3 separate regions of the Homo sapiens genome follow, and all the other regions are linked to region 1. The links come from fine-mapping of genetic effects on plasma protein levels. A gene starts in region 1. Each other region holds a variant in brackets. All regions are shown on one strand. Distances are between the middles of the regions. Region 1 holds the start of CNTN3 (contactin 3). Region 2 overlaps CNTN3 (contactin 3). Region 3 overlaps CNTN3 (contactin 3).

The links. A credible set is the group of variants that fine-mapping cannot tell apart. PIP is the chance, under the fine-mapping model, that this variant and not a neighbour inherited with it causes the effect. Protein levels are from antibody-based Olink assays in UK Biobank. Linkage for the fine-mapping came from a reference panel and not from the study's own genotypes, which makes the PIPs less certain.
Region 2: its variant is the best candidate, but not a certain one, in a credible set for the plasma level of the CNTN3 protein (UK Biobank, PIP 0.71).
Region 3: its variant is the best candidate, but not a certain one, in a credible set for the plasma level of the CNTN3 protein (UK Biobank, PIP 0.54).

The regions. Positions count from the first base shown.
Region 1 is chr3:74,613,500-74,616,264 of GRCh38, reverse strand. It overlaps CNTN3 (contactin 3), which reads left to right and starts at 1,606. Exons shown (of 23, transcript NM_020872.3): 1 at 1,606-1,874. It overlaps LOC105377166 (a long non-coding RNA gene), which reads right to left and starts at 2,462. Exons shown (of 3, transcript XR_007096257.1): 1 at 2,374-2,462.
Region 2 is chr3:74,508,903-74,511,667 of GRCh38, reverse strand. The region is part of intron 2 of CNTN3 (contactin 3); the gene reads left to right. Among named protein-coding and RNA genes, the nearest start is that of CNTN3, 100 kb to the left of the region's middle. The variant G/A (reference allele first, on the strand shown) is at 1,218.
Region 3 is chr3:74,556,361-74,559,125 of GRCh38, reverse strand. All of the region lies in intron 1 of CNTN3 (contactin 3), which reads left to right. Among named protein-coding and RNA genes, the nearest start is that of CNTN3, 57 kb to the left of the region's middle. The variant T/C (reference allele first, on the strand shown) is at 1,257.

The DNA of each region.
Region 1 (2,765 bases):
ATCACAGGGAGAGGATCAAGGAGAGGAAACAGGGCCATAAACTGTCAAGTCTAATTAAATGTGACTAGATTATTTAATATGAAGGGACAACGTGATACATTTTAAAAACAATGTCAGAGAATTATAAAATGAAAAGTATAAAGTCTCCTCTGCTCCAATTTCAGTCTCACTCACTAGGACTAACAATTGTTAACAGTATCCTTAGACATCCTTTCAGAAATTGTGAATGCATAAATATGGATACATACACACAAAAGGGTGCGTGCGTGTGTGTGTGTGTGTGTGTGTGTGTGTGTGTGTGTAAGTGCTTGTAAGCACAAAAACGGTACAGGTACCAACTTTCCTGTGCCGATCAACAGTACATGTCCCAAGTTCTCCTAACAATACCGTTTATTTATTTTTTTATTTATTTAGAGACAGGGTCTCCCTCAGTCTTTTGGTCTGGAGTGCTGTGGCACAATCATGGCTCACTGCAGCTTCCACCTCCTGAGCTCGAGTGATCCCTCAAGTGCTCCTCCCACCTCAACCTCTCAAGTAGTTGGGACAACAGGTGCGTGCCATGACGCCCACCTAATTTAAACTTTTTGTTTGTTTGTTTTTTGCAGAGACAAAGTCTCCCTATGTTGCCCAGGCTGGTCTCAAACTCCTGGGCTCAAGAGATCCACCTGTCTTGGCTTCTCAAAGTGCTGGGATTACAGGAGTGACCCACCTCCGCCCAGCCTCTAAGGATACCTCTTGGAGGTCATTTATGCCAATACTAGTAGATGCACCTTTCTCTCTGCCGCTGTATGTCTCCACTGTATTTTATCAGCCACTCTCCTAATGAAGGACAGGTAGGTTGTTCCCAACTGTTTTTCGTACAACTAAAGTTGCAGTGTTTGCACGGGTTTGACTGGAAGTAAGTCACCAGCGGTTCAGCGCAAAGGCTCAGGACTGCAACAGGCTTATTCAAGTCCGGGTTCTCCAACCCACCACTGTGTGTATACTTGGGCAAATAAAGGTGGTAAGATCTACTTCACAGGGTCCTTGACAGAATATAGTTGCGATTATTCTCACAACTGACTCATTGAAACTTTAAGCAAACCAATTTCCTCATCACTAAATCCGGGAATAATAATAGATCCAGGTTGCTCTGGGGACTGCATGAACTAATTGATTTAGCGCAGTCCACGACCTGCTACCTAGTGAGCCCTTAATAATTATCCGCTTTAATATTAAAATTGGCAATCTTTGCGCACTTGTGGGAGCGCAGCTGCAGGAGGCTTTTCTAGAAGTGGAATTCCTGCCTTAACCCCGTGTTCCGAGGGCCCTAACTGCGTGGCACGAGGCCACCCGGAGGTGACACGGTGACCGCCGCCCAGCCCGCGCCGCCGCCCAGGGCCCTGCGGAGGCCGGACACACGTGGGTGCACGCGGCCGAGCGCAGGGCCGCGCGGGGTCCGGCCGGCGCAGAGGCGCTGGGGGCGCCGCAGACGCGAGGCTCGGGACCCAGTTGGCTGCTCCGCCGCGCTCCCCGCCCCTCCCTCCCTCCAGTCCGCCCGGTCTCCCCTCCCTCCAGCGTCCGCGTCGGAGCCGGAGCCGGAGCCGGAGTGGCGGAGGCACGGGCAGTGCTCGCTAGGCGCCGGCAGCAGCCACAGCAGCCTGGCGCTTGGCGGCGGCGGCGGTGGCAGCGGCGGGCGGGCTGGCGCCGTGGACTGGGCCGGGAACCGTGCGGACGAGGGTGCTGCGCCTGCGGCGGCGGCGGCTTACGCGGGCGCGCACGGCGGCCCCCCGGGCCCGGACTAACTGCGGCGGCGGCGGTGGCGGCGGCGGCGGCGGCGGCGGCGGCGGCGAGTGGGCCGTCGGGGCGGGCGTCTGGCGAGCTGCAGAGACCAGGTAAGTCCGGGATGCCCGACTCCTGGCGCCGGCCGGGCCACAGGGATGAGCCACCTGCCAGGGCAAACTTTACGCCCTGGCTTCATGGCTCCTCAGCCCCGAAGTTTGTTTGCAGGGAAATGCACCTGACGGGTCGAGAATAAAAGATGCTTCTCTCATCGGACTTGCTCTGGGGAGATTATTTTTCCCCTTCTGGGGCGAGGATTGGTTTCGGGTTGGGAAGGCTGCATCCCCAGCTGGAGCGCTGAAAATTGAGTGGTAGGTCCCTTGGGCTTGCCCTTCGCGCAGTGGATTTGACCAGTTAAAGTTGGGGGAAAAAAGTTGTGACTCCTAGGGATGCTGAGGAACAATTCCAGGTGCATGATGCAGAATGTGGGAATGTGATACCTCTTTGCTGGAACCACCCCCCAGGCCCAGATTCCCAGGTCTGAGAAAGCTAGGGTGGCCGATTCTTTCATTAGCGATCAAGTTTTCTAAGCTGCATTTTCTTTCTACTCACAGATCAGCAGCTTGGGACGGAGTTCCCCGTCGCGTTTATTTGTCAGGTTTACCCTGCTGCGCTGTAGTCCAGGTTTCCTGAGCTCGGACCCTGGTTTCAGCTGTTTCTGTGTTCTCTGAGGAGCCTGCAAAGCTAACCAAGCAGGTAACAGAATAGCAGAAACAGAAAACCAGGAAGTGCCAACCGGGCACCGGGGTCATAGCACCATCAGGAATTTTTTCTGGTCGCGTGAAATGAACGAACAGCTTCTGGGCTCTGCTTGTGCAAAGCTCCGTACAACTCTCCAATCCGTATGTCTTTCCCTGTATTGCATTTGCTTATTGATTTACAACAAGGAGATGTGTCCAGAGGTATTATTTAATAACAAACGGTGTCCGCTACGGTAAGGACAG
Region 2 (2,765 bases), 100 kb after region 1:
GACAGGGGTCTCACTTCATCACCCAAGCTGAAGTGTAGTGGTAAGATCATAGTTCACTATAACCTTGAACACCTGGGCCCAGCAATCCCCTGGCTTCAGCCCTCCCAAGTAGCTGGGACTACAGGCACACCACCACGCCAGGCTAATTTATTTATTTATTTATCTTACTTCTTGTAGAGATGTGTTGAATTGAATTTCTGATAAAGTGGTATTATACTTAGATGTACCTTCAAGACTTTATGCCTTGAAGGATAAAGGGCAAAAATATTCCAGGAGGAAGAATGACATAAATCAATCCAAGATATGTTATTTGATAAATCAACTTATTTTGCAAGTAATTATATGTGAATTTCTTGCTGACATCCATGGATGTCTTACTCCCTGTAGGGCTGTAGTCTATGAATATGGAAATTGTGCTCTGTCAATATGGAACTGCTGAATTGAAGATTGCTAGACCTTTGATTTTTTGTTTGTAAGAAGGTGAAATTTGACTTTAGGCCTAAATCTCTGGATTTTTTTTTAAATGAAGCCATTCAATTTAAAGGAAGTGTTTTCTCCCCTCCTGAAATTCTTTGATCCAAATTTAAGAAGTGTTCAAGATAGATTTGGCCCAATAGCCACCATCGTGCAGCTCTGCAAACCTAAATTCCCAGTATCTATGATAGGTCATATACGTATCATATGATTGTAGAATTTGTGATTTGCAAAAACTTGAAAAAAACAAACTAGCCCAGGTTCTATCTGAAAAGCAGACCCAAAGCTCAAACTGAGATTAAGGGACCGAGATGTGGAATGTGTCCAGGCAGCCAGCAGGTGACTGATTTGAATCCTAACTTTGGAAGATTTAGATTAAAGTAAGAATTGCTTGTTGATTACTTGTTAACTAAATTCATAGCTTGCATAAATGATTTCTCATAGATTTGGGGATATTTTGCCAAAAGATACATTCCGTAGGAATAGTAAGGCCTTTGCAAATGCTGACCCTTCCTGAAGGTAACTTTAACCACAGTAAACATTCTTAGAGATTTGAGTAAGTGAAACACCAAGCAGAACTCAGCATTTTTGTTTTGTTTTGTTTTAATGTCTTAGGCAGCTGTTACTTTCAAACAAGTCATTAAAATGCAGAAAAGGGACTTTAGTTCAGCACTCTGAGGTTTGCAAAAGATTACTGTTAGGGTGCTATTGCTGTTGAAAGTGCTATTTTTGTATGTACTTTC[G/A]TGAAGCTAGTCCTGTCTTGTACCTGTACTGATGGTACTCAGAAGGGTGTGCACGGGGTGTAGATGATCAAGAATCTGCAAACTGCCTAACAGAAATAACTGCCTCTGTAAGGACACAGTGAAGATGTTTCATGAGAGTCATAGACACATTCACTGAATTCGCTTCCGTTATATGTTCATATTTTTATATAATATATTGTGTTATAGTTGGATGCATAAATTACAGTTGGAGTTAAGTGAATCTGATTAGGGTGGTCTCAGGAAAGTCTGAAGTCTTTCTGTGATCAGCTGTAACATTTTGTAAATTAAAACCATCTGCAATGATGCTTAAGTAAACACACCTACAGACCCAGGGAGATTCCCAGACAATTGCTAATTTACTAAGTTTTCATATATATATATATGAAAACTTATATATATGTATATATATGTATATAAAATAGGTATGCTAAGAGGTTAGAAGAAGTGTGTGTTAAATATGGTCACTATCTTCTGAAAGTATAAAGCCCGGGGATGAGGGTGATAAGAGTGAAAAACAAGTACATGTAATATATTATAGGATAATGATGTTGTGATGAGTAAAATACACAAACATTGTTCTAGGAATTCAGAATGAGGAACGATTACTACAAGGGAGATAATGAGGGAGGATGAATGAAAGAATTGAGAGCAGAGTTTCCTCAGACTTCCTTACACAATTTGGTGGCTTCTCATACATACTGCCAAATGCTTCTTCCAAAACGGTGGTACCAAAAAAGTATAGAGAGATTCCGGTTTAACTCATCCTCTCCAGCCCTGTGGGTTACTTATTTATAATCTGTGCCATTATTAAGGAAAGCAATAGGAATTAAAAGGAAGCCGGGCACAGTGGCTCATGCCTGTAACCCAGCACTTTGGGAAGCCAAGGTGGGTGGATCACGAGGTCAGGAGTTTGAGACCAGCCTGGCCAACATGGCGAAACCCCGTCTCTACTAAAAATACAAAAATTAGTTGGGCATGATGGCGTGTGCCCGTAATCCCAGATACTCAGGAGGCTGAGGCAGGAGAATTGCTTGAACTCGGGATGTGGAGGTTGCATCACTGCACTCCAGCCTGGGCAACAGAGCGAGACCCCATGTCAAAAAAAAAAAAAAAAAAGAAAGGAAAGGAGCACCACTTTTTTATTCAGAGTGCTTAATAGTCACTTAGAATTAGGTGATTTAGCAAATGCAAAGTGTGTAATACTGGGCCTAGCATCCCATGTTTATTTTCCCTCCACAGGTTGACATTTTAGAATGTGCATGTGTTTATTAACTAAGAATATATAATGAAGAGGGATTTTGTTCCATACTGTATAGCTCTAAGAAACAATGCTTCTGAAAACAAAATAAAATATGTTTTTGTTTGCCAACATTTTTGGCAATACACAGTATTTCTCTTCTCCCTGAGGCTACAGAGGTAGCAGTTCAGTAGATTTGAGGAGGGCTCTCTTGTCTTTACTGTATCTTGGGCCCAGTGATACTCTTTCAATTTTTAAGATGCTTATACTTTTTCTTACATTGCCAAGGT
Region 3 (2,765 bases), 57 kb after region 1:
TCTAGTAGTAATATTAATTATGATACTAATAATAGCTAATCTTTATTGAGCTCTATGCTTAGTTCTTTTCTATGCCTTAGGTTATTTAGTTAGTAAAATGAACTTTGACTGCAGTTACTATTATTATTATTATTATTATTATTGAGACAGGGTCTCACTCTGTCACCCAGGCTGGAGTGCAGTGACACAATCTCAGCTCACTGCAACCTCCACCTCCCAGTTTCAATGATTCTCATGTCTCAGCCTCCAGAACAGCTGGGATTACATGTGTATGCCATCACACCTGTCTAATTTTTTTGTATTTTTAGTAGAGATAGGGTTTTACCACGTTGGAAAGGTTAGTCTCAAACTCCTGGCCTCATGTGATTTGCCTGCCTCGGCCTCCCAAAGTGCTGGGATTACAGGTGTGAACCACTGCACCTGGCCTGCAGTTACTATTATTAATTCCATGTTACAGATGAACAAATTAGGATATAAAATGTCAAGTAATTTACTGAAGGGCAAAGAGATAGTCAATAGTGGATCAAGGACTCAAATTCAGGTTTAATACACCAAAGACTATGCAGACCATCTCTATGCTGTTCTGTTTCCCATTTGATTCTTAAAATTATATATGTCTGTCTTTAAAAGTATTCAGCAAGAAGGCTCTGCATACATCAGTTTATCATTTTAAATATATAGCTTAGGGATATGTAGATAAGACTAACAGTTGTGAGGAGTGTTGCAAAAATTTACTCCTAATAAGTTTCTTAGATTGCATTCTTTGGGAAATGGACTCTGAGACAGAGATCTGCATATACGAAGTTTGTTTGAGAGTGTCCTCAGGATCAACTCCTGTGTGAAAATAAAGGAAGTAGGATTAAGAAGAGGGAGGAAGGTGAACTATGATGCAGTAGTATCAAAGGCTTAGCCCATCCTATGGGGGGTTCTGGACTGCAATGACCCTTCAGAGTTGTCTCATCTTAAGGCAGGGGACTGGGCTTTCATATATCATGCAAAAACCAGTAATTGCATGAAGATTATCCCTAAAGAGGGAGATACAATTTGGGGCAACTCTGGCCGAGGGCAGTTCCTGGAGAGACTAAGCTGAGAGCCATCAGCCACCTGTATTTCTAGAGGCTGGGGTAAAGAATATTTCATTCTGAAGGGGAACTATTACAGTCCACCCCTTGTGTTCCATGCATCCATTTGTTTTGTTTAATAGAGTTTGGAAACAGCTTCTTCAGTGTTCTTGTTGGTTTCTCTACCTGGAAAAA[T/C]TTACCAGGGAGCAGCTAATAGGACAAAATACTCTATCTCTGCAGCTGGCCTCAAGGTGGAAATGGACAGTTACTATTTCTGTCTTTTAATATTCATTCCAAGCTCTCTCTGACTGGCATTTCCTTCTTTTTTTTTTTTTTTCATCTGTTGCTGTTCTGGCATGAGAAGCCTGAAGTGACAGGGTGGAAATTATGGCATAAAACTTAATCGTGTCTGGCTGTGTTCCTGGCGGAAATGTTACCTTTCTAGGAACAAGAATTCTTAAGCCCTTAGAGTTTCAGCAAATAGAAAAAAGAAATTTCCCATATGGATTGCTGAGGCTACTTCTGCTTCTATCCCTTGGTTCCTAAACCTGTATGTCCTACCTGTTGAAGACACAGCACTATATACTAGTCATTGACTCAGGGTGTGTACGATGTCCTGGAGGATGATGCCTCATCCATGCAAGAAGGCCTCTACAAGTGGATGTTTCAATCATATTTTCAAAATGCCATCACAGTGATGGGAAAACTGGATATCCATCTGCCAAAGATGTTGGACCACTACCTCACACTATTTACCAAATTATTTCAAAATGGATTATAGGTAGAACTCCAACAGCTAAAACTAGAAAACTCTTAAAAGAAAATGTAAATATAAATCTTCAGGACCTTGATTTAGGCATGGGTTTCTTAGATATGACATTAAAACCCCAAGTGACAAAAGAAAAAAGAGAAAAATCAGATTTTCATCAAAATTAGGAACTTTTATGCTGCAGAGGACACCAGTTAGGAAGTAAAAAGACAATCCACATAATGGGATGAAATATTTATAAATTATGTATCTGGTAAGGGACTTATATTAGAATACAAAAAAACTCTCACGATGCAACAATAAAAAGACAAACCTGTTGAAAACTGGACAAAGGATTTGAATTGATGTTTCTCCAAGGAAGATATACAAATGGCCAATAAGCACATGAAAACATGGTTGACCTCATTAGCCATTAGGGAAATGCAAATTGAAGCCAAAGTGAAATATATTTCACACCCATTAAGACAACTAAACTTTAAAAAGGACAAATATAACAAATGTTGACAAGGATGAGGAGAAATTGGAACTTTCCTACACTGCAGATGGGATAGTAAGATGGTGGAGTTACATTGGAAAACAGTCTGGCAGTTCCTGAAAATGTTAAATATAGAGGTCCCATATGAAGTAGCATTTGCACTCCTAGATATCTACCCAAGAGAAATGAAAACATACATCCATGCAAAAACTTGTACACAAATGTTCATTGCAGCATTATTCACAATAGCCAAAGAGGAAAAATTCTAAAGTCCATCAACTTATGAATGAATAAGCAAAGTATGGTATATCCATACAGTGGAATATTATTCAGCTACAAAACAAAATTTACTAACATTTCATGAATGTACCTTGAAAATACTATGCTAAGTGAGAGAAGGCATTACAAAAGATCACATATTTTATGATTCCATTTATATGAAATGCCCAGAATAAACAAA